Homo sapiens: one gene and its partners. The protein of the gene in region 1 binds, or shares a complex with, the protein of each later gene. Each region holds a gene or a part of one and is shown on either strand. Other genes may lie near its edges. A codon is read from its position in the direction of its gene.

The links. The genes of interacting proteins can lie anywhere in the genome.
Region 2: the proteins of MED1 (region 1) and MED24 are in contact, whole or in part, in a cryo-EM structure (PDB 8T9D), measured with the Homo sapiens proteins. Residues at the interface, in NP_004765.2 of Homo sapiens: Phe375, Asn377, Gly436, Leu437, Gln439, Glu441, Ser453, Asn459, Asp460, Ser461, Leu462, Val463, Cys464, Tyr480, Lys481, Gly482, Asp485; in NP_055630.2 of Homo sapiens: Lys7, Ile10, Trp14, Lys15, Arg17, Leu47, Ala50, Met51, Ile52, Gly53, Pro54.
Region 3: the proteins of MED1 (region 1) and PPARG are in contact, whole or in part, in a crystal structure (PDB 6ONJ), measured with the Homo sapiens proteins. Residues at the interface, in NP_004765.2 of Homo sapiens: Asn638 (codon at 2,975), Thr639 (codon at 2,978), Asn641 (codon at 2,984), His642 (codon at 2,987), Pro643 (codon at 2,990), Met644 (codon at 2,993), Leu645 (codon at 2,996), Met646 (codon at 2,999), Leu648 (codon at 3,005), Leu649 (codon at 3,008), Lys650 (codon at 3,011), Asp651 (codon at 3,014); in NP_056953.2 of Homo sapiens: Val321, Gln322, Thr325, Glu326, Lys329, Phe334, Leu339, Asn340, Asp341, Gln342, Val343, Thr344, Leu346, Lys347, Gly427, Leu429, His494, Pro495, Leu496, Glu499, Ile500, Lys502.

Annotation. Positions count from the first base shown.
Region 1 is NC_000017.11:39,406,253-39,413,283, reverse strand, and holds part of MED1 (mediator of RNA polymerase II transcription subunit 1), read left to right. Parts: intron 1-2,562; coding exon 2,563-5,809; 3' UTR 5,810-7,031. UniProt on the Homo sapiens protein: Component of the Mediator complex, a coactivator involved in the regulated transcription of nearly all RNA polymerase II-dependent genes.
Region 2 is NC_000017.11:40,018,585-40,023,420, forward strand, and holds the end of MED24 (mediator of RNA polymerase II transcription subunit 24), read right to left. Parts: intron 4,812-4,836; coding exon 4,547-4,811; intron 4,243-4,546; coding exon 4,061-4,242; intron 3,901-4,060; coding exon 3,810-3,900; intron 3,471-3,809; coding exon 3,371-3,470; intron 1,770-3,370; coding exon 1,689-1,769; intron 1,350-1,688; coding exon 1,201-1,349; intron 1,062-1,200; coding exon 945-1,061; 3' UTR 520-944; downstream 1-519. UniProt on the Homo sapiens protein: Component of the Mediator complex, a coactivator involved in the regulated transcription of nearly all RNA polymerase II-dependent genes.
Region 3 is NC_000003.12:12,411,058-12,418,088, reverse strand, and holds part of PPARG (peroxisome proliferator-activated receptor gamma), read right to left. Parts: intron 1,386-7,031; coding exon 935-1,385; intron 1-934. UniProt on the Homo sapiens protein: Nuclear receptor that binds peroxisome proliferators such as hypolipidemic drugs and fatty acids.

The sequences.
Region 1 (7,031 bases):
CTCAAAACAAACAAACTAACTAAATAAATAAAAATATAAAAATTAGCCAGGTGTGGTGGCAGGTGCCTATAATCCCAGCTACTCAGGAGGCTGAGGCGGGAGAATTGCTTGAACCTGGGAGGCGGAGGCTGCAGTGAGCCGAGATTGTGCCACTCCACTCCAGCCTGGTAGACAGAGCAAGATGCCATCTCAAAACAAACAAAAAGCCAACTTAATTGTTACGTGATAGTTAAGCCAGTATGCATCCCAGAACCATTAATATGTAATTTTTTGAGATTTTTCTACAGCTGGGTCTGGCAGCCTATTTTTGTAAATAAATTTTATTGGAACACTGCTGTTCATTTACATGTCTGTGGCAGATTTCTAGTTAATATTGCAGAGTAGGTGAACAGGAAACAAGACCTACAAAGCCTAACGGATTACTATATGGCCTTATAAGAAAAATTTGCGGCCGGGTGCGGGGGTCACCCCTGTAATCCTAGCACTTTGGGAGGCTGAGGCGGGTAAATCACGAGGTCAGGAGTTCAAGACCAGCCTGGCCAAGATGGTGAAACCCCATCTCTACTAAAAATACAAAAATTAGCTGGGCGTGGTGGCGGGCTTCTGTAATCCCAGCTACTTGGGAGGCTGAGGCAGAGAATTGCTTGAACCTGGGAGGCGGAAGTTGCGGTAAGCCAAGATCATGCCACTGCACTCCAGCCTGGATAACAGAGCGAGACTCTGTCTCAAAGAAAAAAAAAAAAAAAAAAAGAAAAATTTGCTGGCTGGGTGTGGTGGCTCACGCCTATAATCCCAGCACTTTGGGAGGTGGGTGGATCGCCTGAGGTCAGGAGTTCGAGACCAGCCTGACTGACATGGAGAAACCCTGTCTCTACTAAAAATACAGAATTAGCTGGGCGTGATGGCGCATGGCTGTAATCCCAGCTACTCGAGAGGCTGAGGCAGGAGAATCACTTGAACCTGGGAGGTGGAGGTTGCAGTGAGCCAAGATCGCGCCATTGCACTCCAGCCTGGGCAACAAGAGCAAAACTCCGTCTCAAAAAAAAAAAAAAAAAGAAAAAAAAATTTGCTGACATATGTTCTAGAGCAAAACGTTTGCAAACTGAGGTTTATGAATATAAATTTATCTGGAAAATAAAAAGTGCTTTGCTTTAAAATAAACAAGATTTATAACAGAAATAGCACTTTTTATAATAGTGTAGGTTTGGGATGATCTAAGTCATTAAGGTTTAGTACTTAATGGGTCAAGAGATTTTTCTTTTCTTTTTTTTTTTTTTGAGATGGAGTCTTGTACTGTCACCTGGGCTGGAGTGCCATGGCACAATCTCAGCTCACTGCAACCTCTGCTTCCCGGGTTCAAGCAATTCTGCCTCAGCCTCCCAAGTAGTTGGGATTACAGGCACCTGCCACCATGCCCAGCTAATTTTTTGTATTTTTTCTTTTTTTTAGTAGAGATGGGGTTTCACTATGTTGGCCAGGCTGGTCTCAAAACTCCTGACCCTGTGATCCACCCGCCTCGGCCTCCCAAAGTGCTGGGATTACAGGCGTGAGCCACTCTGACCGGCGGAGATTTTTCTAATGGTTCCTTAATTAAAATAAATTATGTATCCCTGTAATTACCATATGAAGCCCCCCAGAGGACGACATTTTCTTTTTTCCTTTGAAATGAAGTCTTGCACTGTCACCAAGGCTGGCGTGCAATGGGACGATCTTGGCTCGCTGCGATCTCTGCCTCCTGGGTTCAAGTGATTCTCCTGTCTACCCTTCCTGAGTAGCTGGGATTACAGCTGTGCACCGCCACGGCTGGCTAATTTTTTGTATTTTTAGTAGAGACAGGGTTTCACCCCGCTGGCCAGGCTGGTCTCAAACTCCTGACCCGAAGTGATCCACCCTCCTCGGCCTTCCAAAGTGCTGGGATTGCAGGAGTGAGCCACCGCGCCCGACCTAAGGAGGCATTTTTTTTTTTGAGACGGAGTCTCACTCTGTTGCCAAGCTGGAGTGCAGTGGTGTGATCTCAGTGCAATGCAACCTCCGCCTCCCTTGTTCAAGCAATTCTCCTGCCTCAACCTCCCGAGTAGCTGGGATTACAGGCACGCGCCACCACGCCCAGCTAATTTTTGTATTTTTAGTAGAGACGGGGTTTCACCATGTTGGCCAGGATGGTGTCGATCTCCTGACCTCATGTTCCAGCCGCCTTGGCCTCCCAAAGTGCTGGGATTACAGGCGTGAGCCACTGTGCCCGGCCCCTAAGGAGGCATTTTCTTACTGAGTTCCATTATTACCAATTTTCTTTTAGTTAAGTTTGAAATTCAATTATTTGGACTCTTGTTTATAGTTTGCTTTTGTTGTGTGATTCATAAGAGGTTGACAATTTTATGTTGGGTTAGATTTTTAGAATGTATTTACCCAAAGCTCTGGTATTTGATAGAACTATTTTTGTCTTACAGATTATTTGCCCTACCTGAAAACTGCTTACTGCAAAACTCTGATGTTATATCTAAATCTCAGGTCTCATTCAGCAGCTATTGCAATGTTAACTTTGTTTTCTTCTTTATTTTGCAGATGTATGTCCATCCCTGTGACGATGAGGGCTATTCGGAGGAAAGCTGAAACCATTCAAGCCGACACCCCAGCACTGTCCCTCATTGCAGAGACAGTTGAAGACATGGTGAAAAAGAACCTGCCCCCGGCTAGCAGCCCAGGGTATGGCATGACCACAGGCAACAACCCAATGAGTGGTACCACTACACCAACCAACACCTTTCCGGGGGGTCCCATTACCACCTTGTTTAATATGAGCATGAGCATCAAAGATCGGCATGAGTCGGTGGGCCATGGGGAGGACTTCAGCAAGGTGTCTCAGAACCCAATTCTTACCAGTTTGTTGCAAATCACAGGGAACGGGGGGTCTACCATTGGCTCGAGTCCGACCCCTCCTCATCACACGCCGCCACCTGTCTCTTCGATGGCCGGCAACACCAAGAACCACCCGATGCTCATGAACCTTCTTAAAGATAATCCTGCCCAGGATTTCTCAACCCTTTATGGAAGCAGCCCTTTAGAAAGGCAGAACTCCTCTTCCGGCTCACCCCGCATGGAAATATGCTCGGGGAGCAACAAGACCAAGAAAAAGAAGTCATCAAGATTACCACCTGAGAAACCAAAGCACCAGACTGAAGATGACTTTCAGAGGGAGCTATTTTCAATGGATGTTGACTCACAGAACCCTATCTTTGATGTCAACATGACAGCTGACACGCTGGATACGCCACACATCACTCCAGCTCCAAGCCAGTGTAGCACTCCCCCAACAACTTACCCACAACCAGTACCTCACCCCCAACCCAGTATTCAAAGGATGGTCCGACTATCCAGTTCAGACAGCATTGGCCCAGATGTAACTGACATCCTTTCAGACATTGCAGAAGAAGCTTCTAAACTTCCCAGCACTAGTGATGATTGCCCAGCCATTGGCACCCCTCTTCGAGATTCTTCAAGCTCTGGGCATTCTCAGAGTACCCTGTTTGACTCTGATGTCTTTCAAACTAACAATAATGAAAATCCATACACTGATCCAGCTGATCTTATTGCAGATGCTGCTGGAAGCCCCAGTAGTGACTCTCCTACCAATCATTTTTTTCATGATGGAGTAGATTTCAATCCTGATTTATTGAACAGCCAGAGCCAAAGTGGTTTTGGAGAAGAATATTTTGATGAAAGCAGCCAAAGTGGGGATAATGATGATTTCAAAGGATTTGCATCTCAGGCACTAAATACTTTGGGGGTGCCAATGCTTGGAGGTGATAATGGGGAGACCAAGTTTAAGGGCAATAACCAAGCCGACACAGTTGATTTCAGTATTATTTCAGTAGCCGGCAAAGCTTTAGCTCCTGCAGATCTTATGGAGCATCACAGTGGTAGTCAGGGTCCTTTACTGACCACTGGGGACTTAGGGAAAGAAAAGACTCAAAAGAGGGTAAAGGAAGGCAATGGCACCAGTAATAGTACTCTCTCGGGGCCCGGATTAGACAGCAAACCAGGGAAGCGCAGTCGGACCCCTTCTAATGATGGGAAAAGCAAAGATAAGCCTCCAAAGCGGAAGAAGGCAGACACTGAGGGAAAGTCTCCATCTCATAGTTCTTCTAACAGACCTTTTACCCCACCTACCAGTACAGGTGGATCTAAATCGCCAGGCAGTGCAGGAAGATCTCAGACTCCCCCAGGTGTTGCCACACCACCCATTCCCAAAATCACTATTCAGATTCCTAAGGGAACAGTGATGGTGGGCAAGCCTTCCTCTCACAGTCAGTATACCAGCAGTGGTTCTGTGTCTTCCTCAGGCAGCAAAAGCCACCATAGCCATTCTTCCTCCTCTTCCTCATCTGCTTCCACCTCAGGGAAGATGAAAAGCAGTAAATCAGAAGGTTCATCAAGTTCCAAGTTAAGTAGCAGTATGTATTCTAGCCAGGGGTCTTCTGGATCTAGCCAGTCCAAAAATTCATCCCAGTCTGGGGGGAAGCCAGGCTCCTCTCCCATAACCAAGCATGGACTGAGCAGTGGCTCTAGCAGCACCAAGATGAAACCTCAAGGAAAGCCATCATCACTTATGAATCCTTCTTTAAGTAAACCAAACATATCCCCTTCTCATTCAAGGCCACCTGGAGGCTCTGACAAGCTTGCCTCTCCAATGAAGCCTGTTCCTGGAACTCCTCCATCCTCTAAAGCCAAGTCCCCTATCAGTTCAGGTTCTGGTGGTTCTCATATGTCTGGAACTAGTTCAAGCTCTGGCATGAAGTCATCTTCAGGGTTAGGATCCTCAGGCTCGTTGTCCCAGAAAACTCCCCCATCATCTAATTCCTGTACGGCATCTTCCTCCTCCTTTTCCTCAAGTGGCTCTTCCATGTCATCCTCTCAGAACCAGCATGGGAGTTCTAAAGGAAAATCTCCCAGCAGAAACAAGAAGCCGTCCTTGACAGCTGTCATAGATAAACTGAAGCATGGGGTTGTCACCAGTGGCCCTGGGGGTGAAGACCCACTGGACGGCCAGATGGGGGTGAGCACAAATTCTTCCAGCCATCCTATGTCCTCCAAACATAACATGTCAGGAGGAGAGTTTCAGGGCAAGCGTGAGAAAAGTGATAAAGACAAATCAAAGGTTTCCACCTCCGGGAGTTCAGTGGATTCTTCTAAGAAGACCTCAGAGTCAAAAAATGTGGGGAGCACAGGTGTGGCAAAAATTATCATCAGTAAGCATGATGGAGGCTCCCCTAGCATTAAAGCCAAAGTGACTTTGCAGAAACCTGGGGAAAGTAGTGGAGAAGGGCTTAGGCCTCAAATGGCTTCTTCTAAAAACTATGGCTCTCCACTCATCAGTGGTTCCACTCCAAAGCATGAGCGTGGCTCTCCCAGCCATAGTAAGTCACCAGCATATACCCCCCAGAATCTGGACAGTGAAAGTGAGTCAGGCTCCTCCATAGCAGAGAAATCTTATCAGAATAGTCCCAGCTCAGACGATGGTATCCGACCACTTCCAGAATACAGCACAGAGAAACATAAGAAGCACAAAAAGGAAAAGAAGAAAGTAAAAGACAAAGATAGGGACCGAGACCGGGACAAAGACCGAGACAAGAAAAAATCTCATAGCATCAAGCCAGAGAGTTGGTCCAAATCACCCATCTCTTCAGACCAGTCCTTGTCTATGACAAGTAACACAATCTTATCTGCAGACAGACCCTCAAGGCTCAGCCCAGACTTTATGATTGGGGAGGAAGATGATGATCTTATGGATGTGGCCCTGATTGGGAATTAGGAACCTTATTTCCTAAAAGAAACAGGGCCAGAGGAAAAAAAACTATTGATAAGTTTATAGGCAAACCACCATAAGGGGTGAGTCAGACAGGTCTGATTTGGTTAAGAATCCTAAATGGCATGGCTTTGACATCAAGCTGGGTGAATTAGAAAGGCATATCCAGACCCTATTAAAGAAACCACAGGGTTTGATTCTGGTTACCAGGAAGTCTTCTTTGTTCCTGTGCCAGAAAGAAAGTTAAAATACTTGCTTAAGAAAGGGAGGGGGGTGGGAGGGGTGTAGGGAGAGGGAAGGGAGGGAAACAGTTTTGTGGGAAATATTCATATATATTTTCTTCTCCCTTTTTCCATTTTTAGGCCATGTTTTAAACTCATTTTAGTGCATGTATATGAAGGGCTGGGCAGAAAATGAAAAAGCAATACATTCCTTGATGCATTTGCATGAAGGTTGTTCAACTTTGTTTGAGGTAGTTGTCCGTTTGAGTCATGGGCAAATGAAGGACTTTGGTCATTTTGGACACTTAAGTAATGTTTGGTGTCTGTTTCTTAGGAGTGACTGGGGGAGGGAAGATTATTTTAGCTATTTATTTGTAATATTTTAACCCTTTATCTGTTTGTTTTTATACAGTGTTTCGTTCTAAATCTATGAGGTTTAGGGTTCAAAATGATGGAAGGCCGAAGAGCAAGGCTTATATGGTGGTAGGGAGCTTATAGCTTGTGCTAATACTGTAGCATCAAGCCCAAGCAAATTAGTCAGAGCCCGCCTTTAGAGTTAAATATAATAGAAAAACCAAAATGATATTTTTATTTTAGGAGGGTTTAAATAGGGTTCAGAGATCATAGGAATATTAGGAGTTACCTCTCTGTGGAGGTATTGACTTGTAATCTCATTTTCCTTTCAAAAAAAAAAAAAAAAGCTAAGGTGGCTTGTTGGGATGTAAACATGTTTTCAGATGCAGTAAGGTTTAGTGTAGGACAGCCTTCCTGACCCAGTGGCATGAAAACCATTACAGGATTAATAGTTCTCCTACTTCCACAATGTGCCAAAAGTCTGCATCCCAGCATTTTGTTTGCAGGAGAACTGATGCCATTCCTAAGAGCTGGACTCACTGTTTCTCTTCATCACAAGGAGAAGGAGTCCAAACTTTAATCACTCCACTGTATGCTCCCTGAGATAAAACAGTAAAAAATCCGCAGCCATAGTTCACTTAAAACAATTTCAA
Region 2 (4,836 bases), 610 kb from region 1:
AAAGCAGGGTCAGAAGTTCCCACTGCCAGCTCGGAGTCATCCATCTAGGGGCTCAGAGATGTGTGAGGCAGGCAAGGAAGGGTTAAAGAAAGGTCCGGCCCCTCATCCCCCCGCCTCCCATCCCCCAGTCCTTTTTTGGAGGCAACAGATCAAATCCCAGGCTAGTCAGAGTGTGGGTGGTGTTGGACCAGGTTCGGGAGACAGCAGAGCAGGCCACCCTGCCCCAGCACTGTGGGGCCCTGAGCCAAAGCCTCTCCCCTTTCAGGGTACAGCTGGCTTTGGGGGAGGGGGCAGCAGGCCAGCCAACTTGGCTCCAAGGAAGGGAAGCTGCTTTCCCCTGGCCCTTCCCCAGCTGAGCAAGCCCACATAGGACCCTGAGCCCTGCCGCCTCTGCTCCTCTTCCTCCTCCTCCTCACCACAGGAGTGAGCCGTTCCCTGGCCACAGCACAGGAGTCCAGGGAGAGGACACTATGCCCTGCCCCGGGTGGCACCAATACCAACAGCACACACAGTCACAAAGGGAGCCACGAGGAGCTTTATTTATACATGAACGAAGGTAGATTTCCCTCACATATTACAAAATACACACAAACACACACACACACACACACACACACACATACACACTTTGCATCTAGAAAGTTCCTCAGAGGTAAGACTACTCCTGGGCTGGGGCGGGCGCACACAGGGGTGACCACTGGGCTTGTGGTCCAGGCTGCTCACTCTCCTCAGGTGCCAGCAGATGGAGAGGAAATTTTGAAAGAAGAAACCGGGAGACATCCTGGAGGTCAGGAGTCAGGAGCGGGGAACTGGAAGCCGCTAGAGGCTCTTGCACCATGTGGAGCGGATGTGAGGCACGATGCCTCATCTTTCCTCACTGCTTCCCTTGGAGGCGCCTGGGGCTGCGCCAGTCCCCAGCCCCCACTGCGGCCATGCCAAGCCCCTCAGAGTGCAGCAATGGCTTTAGCAGCCACCTGGCGGCCCAGGGGCAGGCTGAGGTCCGTGATGGCCAGAACCACCTTGGGGCTGGACATGGCTGACACCTTCACCAGTTCCGACACCTGCCACGGACAGACAGATGCTGCTTGCGGGACGGCTGGTGGTGGGTGTGCTGTCCCAGGGGGAAGGAGGCCCCTCCCTGCTCTAAGGGCTGCCCCGAGGCCCCAGCACCAGCAGGAGAGCCGGGAAGGTGGTACTCACGGTGGTGAAGGGCATGAACTGCAGGACGCTGCCACGGCCACCCTGCTCCAGGCAGTCCACACACTCCTCCATGAACCACTGCACGAACTGGGTGTGGGGGCCAGCGGTGCGAGACCCCAGGATGGAGGAGATGAGCAGGAACAGGTTGGCTGTAGAGAGTGGGGGGAGAGTGACAGGAGGGAGTTCCATGAGAGTGGGTGAGGTCACACTCTGGGAGAAGGTGGGACTGAAAAGGGAAAAGAAACACATGCTGAGCATGTCCCCAAAATGGGGTGTCAGAGAGAGAAAATATAAAAGGCAATTGGGGAGGGGAGGAGGGGGAACTAGACAGGAGCCTGGGGGCCAGGACAGCCAACAATGAGGGGCATGGAGAGGGAAGGGAGGGGCACCGCAAGGCCCCTTCCAGCTGACAAGGTCTCCCAGCCTCCATGAGAAGAGAGACTCGTCCAGCTTAGCCCCAGGTTCGGCAGCAGGGGTGGGGAACTCACCCAGGACTCGGTTCAGAGGGTCCCGCATGTTGACCGTGTGGAGCTGAGAGGCTGAGAGGGAGCTGCTCATGGATCGGTCTGCTGTGGGACGGAGCAGATGGAGCGCTGGGAAACAGCCTGCCGAGTGCAAAAGTGGTGCTCCCCGGGGATGCCCCAACCCGACCTTCACCCATCGGAGGTAACTGGTACATGGAGAGCCCAGAGAAGACCCTGAGATCAAGAGCACAAAGGGAGGCCAGGTACAGTGGCTCACACCTGTAATCCCAGCATTTTGGGAGGCCGAGGCAGGAGGATCGCTTGAGTCCAGGAGTTTGAGACCAGCCTTGGCAACTAGCGAGACCTCATCTCTACAAAAAATACAAAAATTAGCTGGGTGTGGTGCCAACGCCTGTAGTCCCAGCTCCTCGGGAGGCTGAGGCAGACTGCTTGAGCCTAGGAGAACAAGGCTGCAGTGAGCCGAGATGGTGCCACTGCACTCCAGCCTGAGCAACAGAGCAAAACCGTGTCTCAGAAAAACAGGCTGGGCGTGGTGGCTCACGCCTGTAATCCCAGCACTTTGGGAGGCCAAGGCGGGTGGATCATCTGAGTTCAGGAGTTCGAGACCAGCCTGACCAATATGGTGAAACCCCGTCTCTACTAAAAATACAAAAATTAGCCAGGCGTTGTGGCAGGCGCCTGTAGTCCCAGAGACTCAGGAGGCTGAGACAGGAAAATTGCTTAAACCCAGGAGGCGGAGGTTGCAGTAAGCTGAGATCGTGCGACTGCACTCCAGCCTGGGCAACAGAGGGAGACTCCAACTCAAACAAACAAACAAACAAACAAACAAAAAACAAAACAAAAAAAGGGCACAGAGGGACCTCAGATACAGAGATCCCAATGGAATGAGAGAGAAAAACTAACATGTGGTGAGCACACAGGGCCAGGGGCCGATCTTGGTACTTCCTAAGCTGCTTACTCCTCACAACACCCCATTTACAGATGAGGAGACCCAGACGGGGGCTGGCTCAGTCGCTAGCTAAAGGTCACAGCACTTGTAGCTGGCAAACCTAGCATCTTTCTTCTGATCAAGTGTATAGTTGGTCCCCTAGTTCCTAAAAGGCTTCAGAGAAAAGTTCAGGCTCAGGAGAAATCTCTGGAAACAGGAAAAATGCCACAGAAGGAACCCTTGGCAGTAAGCCTGGCAGGGAGGAGGGGACAGTGAAAAGGATGACCTCCAGGGAAGTGGTTGGTGGGGGGTGTGCTCTTTAGGCAGGAAGGTGGGGAGTAGCCCCATGCCCCAGCCCGGGCCTCTCCGGGCATGTTTTGGGGGAAGGAAGGAAGGAAGGTCAGAGCTGGTGAGTCAATGGCACAGGCTGTGCCTGAGGCAGTGAACTCACTCACTTGGGTAGCTTGTCATCCCCTCAACCCTGGGGTAAGGGAGGGGCAGGAGGGCTGTGGGGGAACAACTGTGGGCTGGGCTGGACCTGGGCAGAGGAGCTTCAACCCTCAGGGAGTGAGAACAGCAACCTCTTCTCCAGGGGCAGGACACAGAGCACCCCCTTGGGGGCTAGAACAGCAGGTCCCTGCCACACCCTCTCTGACCAGCTGCAAAGATGCCTGCAGCTGGGGCAGCGGCAGAGTGGCAGCATCGGGGAGTGAATTCCCAGGAAAAGGAGCGGCGCGCGGCCAGCCCACACACTCACTGGGGCTCGAAAGGATGTTGGCATCGTCCTCATTAGAGCTCAGCAGTCGCATCAACTTCGAAGGCTGCACATCGTCCAGGGGGAAGAGGCTGATATAATCCTAGAGGGAGTGAAAGTCACTGTTATACACCCCTAAACCCCCCAGTTTCCAGCTGTCAGGGAAAAGAGCTTGAGCTCCGATTTGAGCGAGGTCAGCATGGCTAGCAGGGCCTCAGCCCCTCTCTGCTCAACCCCTCCCACAATCTGACAGGCCCCTTGTGCCCATGGGCAAGCTGGGGCCACACAAATCACCCATGCAGATTCCTGACCAATCATGCCCAGGCACAGCTGCCCCAAGGGCAGGGGCCACAACTGCTTCCCTTTGCCTGGGGAATCCTTAGGAAATGCTGTAACAAACCGGTGAACAAGTGAAGCCGGCGAGGGCAGCTGGGGGGCCTACCTCAATGTCTTCGCGGTGTCTCTTCTTCTGGCGGGTGGACGCCTGTCCCTTGTGGGAGGAGTAGGAACTGAGGGCACACCACACGGCCAGCCTGGCAAAGGGTTCCAGAAAAAGGGGGACAGTGAGAGGTGCCCCAGGAGCTTTCTGTGTCTGACTGGGCTCCCCAAAGCCCAGTCTCCCAGGGTGGCACCAGGCGAGGGGTGCTTGACCCTGGGTGGCCGGAGCAGGGCAAGCTCTGAAGAGAATCTTACTTGGCAAGAGCAGTGCCCGGGGGGTCCATGAGGCTGTGCCACTTGGAGGAGTCAGTGAGCAGGCCAGGTAGGATGTGGCCCAGCAGGACCAGGGTCACTTGCTGCATGTCCAGGCAGAAGATGGAGTAGAGCAGCTCCACTGCCCGCAGCGTGTGCTCCTTCCGCGTCTCCTTCAGCAGCTCCTAGTGCGCAGGAAAGGGGGCAGTTCAGGAGCCAGGGGCCCGGGATCTGGGGCTCCTACACCCTGCCACCCCAGCATGGCTGTCCAGTAAGGCCCGCAGAGGGGGCCCCAGATGTTGCTCCGCCCCTCAGGCTGAATCCCAGTCTCTGGCCAGAGCTCCCCAAGGAGGCAACTCTGAGGCGAGGCATTCCGGGGAGGCCACCTGGCTCACGGCAGCCTCTCAGGGAAGCCTGGCAGACCAGGCCAGGTGTGGGGAGCCAGGGGACAGGACCCATGTCGGCCCACAGCCACTCCAGCCCAAGTACCTTAATCAGGTTGTTGCAGAACCAGTAGACGCCGCCCATGTGCAGCAGGGTGTCAAAGATGTGGATGGAGCGGCTGTCCACCCAGCCCTTCTCCAGCACCTTGGCAAAAATGTCCGTCAGCACCTCTTTGATGGGCCGCTTGGGGGGCAGCAGGTTCCAGTAGGGCATTGTGTCCACCCCGGTGGAGGGAAACTTGATCTGCGTGGCTGTCTGCTGCAGCACGTCGGCACACATGCGCTCCAGGATCGAGTTCATGATCACCACCCTGGGGGAGGGCCGAGAGAACCTGA
Region 3 (7,031 bases), on another chromosome or scaffold:
AGGCTGAGGTGGGAGAATCACTTGAGCCCAACTGTAAAATGGCCACGTATTACTTTTATGAAGTAGCATGATCATAGCTTACTAACTGCAGTTAGAAGCTGCAGTGAGCTATGACTGTGCAACTGCACTTCAGTCTGGGTGACAGAGTGAGGCCCTGTCTCACAAAAAAAAAAAAAAAAAAAAAAAGGAAAAAAAAAAAAGAAAAAAAAAAGAAAAAAGTCACACTCAGAAGAAAATCTGGCTTTTGGAATTGGTTAGTCAGATCATGTACTACTTGCAGGGCCAAAAATACAACAAATTGCTAAATAACTAAATTTATTTCTATGTTGTGTGTTCGGTTCACATTGCATTCTTAATCACAACCAACTACCTCACAAAGGTACTTTAAGGGAAGCCATCAGAGGAATCCACACAAGAGAGTGGGTGGAGGTCAGTAGGTATTCCTTAATTCCTGATATCACAAAAGCAATTCAAAGTAGTATCTTACTGATGGTGGGGCAGGAGCATGATTTGACCAGAAATACTTAGTGGTCCCTTCTCTACATCAAGTGAGCATTGTCTTAAGCAAAGTTATACATGCCATTACTTACAGGAACCAAAGATTAGACTGGCCTCTAATCTTCCTTTCTGGAAGGAAAAGAAAGAGACAAAGAAAAGAAAAGAAAAAGAAAAAGGAGAAGAGGGCATTTGACTGGAAAAAATATATTGTTGAGGGATGAAAGAGAAGATCCTGGGTTACTTATAACCTTCACACCGCAAACCTATGACACTCTTTCTTGGTACAGTGTTTTGCACGTGTAGTGATGATTCATGGCATCATGCCACTGGCACTTAAAGTGACAATGCAGACTAACACTAAGGAAATCCAAAATTCTTTTGGCCACCCCACCATCATCCCACCCTCTTTCATAGAAGATCAAAAGACAAATCTTACCTCCACTGAGAATAATGACAGCAATAAATATTGCCAAGTCGCTGTCATCTAATTCCAGTGCATTGAACTTCACAGCAAACTCAAACTTGGGCTCCATAAAGTCACCAAAAGGCTTTCGCAGGCTCTTTAGAAACTCCCTTGTCATGAAGCCTTGGCCCTCGGATATGAGAACCCCATCTTTATTCATCAAGGAGGCCAGCATTGTGTAAATGATCTCGTGGACTCCATATTTGAGGAGAGTTACTTGGTCGTTCAAGTCAAGATTTACAAAACCAGGAATGCTTTTGGCATACTCTGTGATCTCCTGCACAGCCTCCACGGAGCGAAACTGGCAGCCCTGAAAGATGCGGATGGCCACCTCTTTGCTCTGCTCCTGCAGGGGGGTGATGTGTTTGAACTTGATTTTATCTTCTCCCATCATTAAGGAATTCATGTCATAGATAACGAATGGCTGCAAATAAAACAGGGAAAACGTGGATGACTTGGAGATTTCTAACTCACAGTGAATGCCATCCCAGGTTCAGAAAACTGTTTATGTAAACTTGCTTTGCTAACTAAAATCTTTAAAGCTGAAGATGCTTAATAATGAGAAAATACTCTCAAGTTCTTTTATTCATCTTAATTATCTTCTGGGACCAAACATATTTCACCAATTTTGGTCTTCTTTCCCTTCAATTTACACTGTAACACTTTACCTATGACTGGCTAAGAATCCTGATTTCTTTTGTTTGGGGAGTCTTCATTGTTGATTTTTATATTATTTGTTTGTTTGTTTTTGAGACAGAGTCTCACTCTGCGCCCAGACTGAATTACAGTGGCACAATCAGGGCTCACTGCAACCTCCACCTCCCAGGTTCAAGCAATTCTTGTGCCTCAGCCTCCTGGGTAGCTGGGATTACTGGCATGCACTGCCACACCCAGCTGATTTTTGTATTTTTAGTAGAGATGGGGTTTCACCATGTTGGCCAGGCTGGTCTTGAACTCCTGGCCTCAAGTGATCTGCCTGCCTTGGCCTCCCAAAGGGCTGGGATTACAGGCATGAGCCACCACACCCGGCCGATTGTTGATTTTTAAAATGATACAAAATCTACTGTTTATCTTGGCTTTCAATGAAATACACTTTTAACCTTCTTTCAATAAAAAACCATTTCAGCAACTCAGCGTTGAAAATACCCACTTGAACATAAAGTAACTACAGGTTTAAAAAAATTTTTTTTTCTTAAAATTTCTTTTTCCTTTTCCTTTGTTCTCCTTCACAGGTAATAACTTTTCCGTTTTAGATGAAATCCTCTCAGATCTCAAATGAAACTATGTGCACATAAAATATGCTTAACTATGAAAAATCACTCGGAAAGCAGATTACAGCTCTTGAACCAAGAAAATGTCTATTTCTTTTTTTAATGCTCTGGAAGCCATCTATTTCACAAAGAGCAGATATAGAAGGCCTACAGGTGAATGCTGCAAAAAAGCAATTTTGAATTTATATTTTAAAATATCTGTCCTTATAGGTCAAACAATCAATAAAATACATGCCCCAATTATTCAAGTTTGCAATAGGCTGCCTTCAAAAGTTAAGTCATTTGGTCATGACATTCTCTCTCTTTTACTTCCCTTGTATAGAACTAAGCAAGGTTTGTAGTCATTGAGAAATTCTCAAGGCTGTTCTGACTAAGGGGTAACATTTTACTTACACTGGATACACTGAATGACACATAAGGAGTTAAACCTTGAATCCTGTTCAAATACTTGTATACCTGAAAGCACTGGAAGAAGAGCTGAGGGTATGTGTGTTCCAGCTTTGGTTCTGTGGTGAGCCATGTGACTTAAGAAAAGTCATTTACCTTTCCTAGGCCTTAAATTTCTCAATCAGGGGTTTCCATCTCTTCTCCGGAGGAAATTCTAGTTGCATTTCTCAGAAGCAGGATGTGTGTGGGGAGTGGGCATATGTGTGGAGAGGTGTGAGTGTGCATGCACGACAAACATGAAGTCTCTGATGGACTAAAAGTAAAGATTGTTTTGAGCAGAGATGCTGACAATTCTCTCCTGAAAGGAGAGAAGGTGCATGAGTGGCCGTGGCAGCCGGCTTCAAGATGCACTGGTTGGAGATTCTATTCATATCTATGGAACTCTATGATTTTCATCAAAAGATTAAGTTTGTTCTAAACTGGAGGAAATAACACCAACATTGAGGAGTCTCAGATATTAAATATATTTCCAAACTTGTACGTCACATCAACACCCTTTACTGGAGTTATTCTGGAAGTTTTTACTTTTGTTACCAAAAAATTCACTTCAACTGTACTACTTAGCAAACTCCAAAAGAGGACAGATGTGAGGACCCCCAAACAGGTTTACTTGGTGGCTCTAATTTTTAAGGAAATTGGGACCAAACTGTCCTTACCGTATTTCTTAAACATTTTGCTTGGGTGGTTTCTTTCCTTTTTCTTTTTTTCTTTTCAGGATTAATATTATTAATGGGAGGAATACAAGGGGGGCAGAGCAAGTAACATCGATGAAAATTTACTGTATTTTTCCAGAACGTCAGGTTCTAATTATGAGAAAAATGTGAATGGATAATGATGCTTTCACAGAACCTAGAGAAAACGTGTTTCTTGTCCTCCAGGCATTTTACAGTGTATTATAATTTATATTAATGAAATATTTACTTTCTTTTTCTAAAAAAAAATTATTTCATTTTTTGAGATGAGGTCTTGCTATGTATGTTGCCTGGGCTGGTCTTGAACTCCTGGGCTCAAGTGATCGTCCTGCTTTGGCCTCCCTAAGTGCGTGCTAGGATTACAGGTGTGAGCCACCACAACTAGCCTTTATTGGCTTTCTTTCATGTCATGAGAAAATGATGATCTGGACACCTGAAAAGACCAACTGCACATGCAGGAGTACAAATAACATGAATATAAAATCATCACCTTTTCACATGTGGAAAGACTGTACCCAGAACTGCCCACTTCAACTTTCAGAGCTTCTGCTCAACCATTTGGCTTCTTGGCACAGAACATATGCATGAAATTCTTTCACCTCCATGTAAGTGATTTATCTGGAACTATGCCCTGATAAATCACCCTTGTCACTCTTCCCCTTTACTTCCCCTGTCCCCTCATATAAAGCTCCAGGTTCCTGTTTTTGAAACTCTGTAATAGTTGAACATAGGGCACAAAATCCTGCTAATTTTCTCTCCCAATTTAACAACAATGTGACTTTAACCCCTTGGCAATTGATGTTGGTCAGGATTTCCTGGCAGTAAATACTCAAGGACAGAGAGAGGAATCAGCACCCCACCATCATGCCAAACCATTTCATTTTTTTTTTTTTTTTTTTTTGAGATGGAGTTTTGCTCCTGTTGCCCAGGCTGGAGTGCAATGGCGCAATCTAGGCTCACTGCAACCTCCACCTCCTGGGTTCAAGTGATTCTCCTCAGCCTCCAGAGTAGCTGGGATTACAGGCACCCACCACCACGCCCGGCAATTTTTTTTAAATTTTTTTATTTTTTAGTATAGACGGGGTTTCACCATGTTGGCCAGGCTGGTCTTGAACTCCTGGCCTCAGGTGATCCACCCACCTCTGCCTCACAAAGTGATGGGATTACAGGCATGAGCCACCATGCCCGGCCCCATTCCAGCTTTTTCAATCCTTTCTGCATTCTGAAGAAGAGGTGAACTAGCAGAGAATTCTGGGTGTTGACATGCAAATGAACACCAGTTGTTTTATTTTTTCCCTAGTCATATCTGATTATACTGTTTTCACTGCATTTCCGAAGGCTGCATAGATTCTTTCAGCCTCCAGGTAGATCTGTCAAACTGCAAGAGTGATCCCTGGGTGGGCCTGGTCTGCCTTTCTTTGCAACCAATTCACCAATTCTTAGATAGCAGAGAGTTCACTTTCATATTTCACAGGGGACCTCCTTACCCTCAAACCTAGTGAGAAGATCGTGGCCAGCCTGCTTTATGGAGAGAGAACCTCTTAAAACCCTGGTCAAATTTGGTCTGCATTTTATCTTGAATCATTAATTTAACATGACATTTGGTACAATGTGGTACAATGTTCCATACAAAATGTACTGCACTTCCATGGCTGTTTTTTTGTATTTTTTACAAAGCAAAGTGGAGTCCTTACACTTTCCATCAGCTTGGACAGTATCATCCAAAGATTGCCATTATAGGAGCCGTATCATTCTCAAATTTTGTCTTAATGATTTTACACTTCTAGTTGGGGGCTAACAGTGTATTTATCTTCAGACCGTACATCAAAGGGCTGGGTAAGCGTCCCTCCTTAACAGGAAAGAAAGCTTAATTACAAATGGGACATGATGGGGTGAATTCAGGTTTTGTGGGGCATAAAATATACACAGTAGTGGAGTCTCTCTAAGGAAAATATTACAAATTATGAGAATAAAATTGCTTCGGCCCTTCCCCAAGCACTGGAAGGACTTCTGCACAAGGGAAGGGCCCCATGAAGCTTCATTAGCTTCATGGTGAATCTGTCACTGGTCATTGTGTGCTTGTGCTTTTCATATACTGGACAGACCAGAACGGAATGAAGAAAGCTGCACTTGAACCCAGTGTTTTTCCAGGAAAGCAAAATGATTTCTGTAAGGAGAAATCAATTTTTTGAGGGATACATCAAATATAATTAATTTTGATATATTTCAATTTTCAATATTTTGACATTTTGATTTTCAATTTTGACATATTTTGATTTTCAAAAATATATTTTGATTTTCAGGATGGGATTAAAAGTACTGTTTTATATAGATGAGTAAATTCAATTATAGATCTATGGCATGCTTCCTATGTAGAATACAAAGACAATGGGGGAAATGGGATTAATGATGAAAATAGAGTAATTAATTTTTTTTTTACCTTTTTGAATGGAGAAATAGAACAGTAGTGTTCCTGAGAAATCCAATAACATCAGCATTTTAACATGAGTTATGAAAGGTATTATACATGAATGCCCTAAGTTTACACTCCTTTTGAATAACAAAATAGCAAGCTACGGGAGATAAACATGAAAATCACTCAAAAAGCACAGGGTATTCTGGGTGACTTTTCTAATTTGGCAGATTGAATGAGTGTAGTCAACCCCTCTACCCTCTCTCAAACAATCACTTGAGGTAACCCTGTCAGAGTGAAAACTGGCTTGGAAAAATGTGTGCCTCATCGAGTGTGGCTTTCCTGATGTTCTTAGTTTTACCAGGGAAAGACACTGAATTCTTAGGGCTCATGTTCTTCATTTTGTTTCCTTCTTGCTTTTTACACATCTGACTTTCATCACCTTTGACACACCTGGTTCTCCTCGGTTAGCTACAATCCAAAACTCATTGGTTTGGTTTCCTCAGCCTCTCGTTGGTTTCTGCCCCTGTTGTTCCCGTTTCCCTCTTGTTGAGAACTATGAGATTTATAGGACATAAGGGGTCTTCAGAAGTAATCTGTCCCATCATTCTCTGACTAATGGATAAACGGAAGCCAGAGACATTCCAAAGTCAAAGTGCCATTTATAGCAAACCAGGAACTAGAACCTAAGCCCCGATTCTGGGTTGAGAACTTTTCCCTTTCCATTGCTTTCTATAGGACTTCCCCACTTCTTTTTTTCCTTTTAAAATGATTGTTCTAGGATGAACTGGAGATTTTAAACTAACGCTCTTAACATGCTGGGGTCTTGGGGCAGGGCCTTTTGAACCACTGTTTCCTAGAGGTGCTGGTGGAGTGCTGTGTGTGATAGAAGTGAAGTTTGAAAGCTGTCAAAGATATTCTGCTTTCCTGCAGGGTTTAGAGATTTACGACAAACAAATGAAAACTTAATATGAAGAATTATTCACATGCTAATGAACTAGCACATAACCACAGCTCTTAAAAAAATCAATTGCCAGCCAAAGAGTTACTCAGCAGGCAAACAAGGGTATTGGCCAACTGAGTCCAGCCATTGGAAAAAAAAAATCCAAGTGCTTTTCTTTTTAACTCTATAAAATATTATTTTTAACTTATTCTCTGAAAGAACACACTGGTTTAGATCTTTTACATCTTTAGCTATTCCTGACAGTCCTGGCAATAGAAGAATTTATTTTATTAATATTGATACA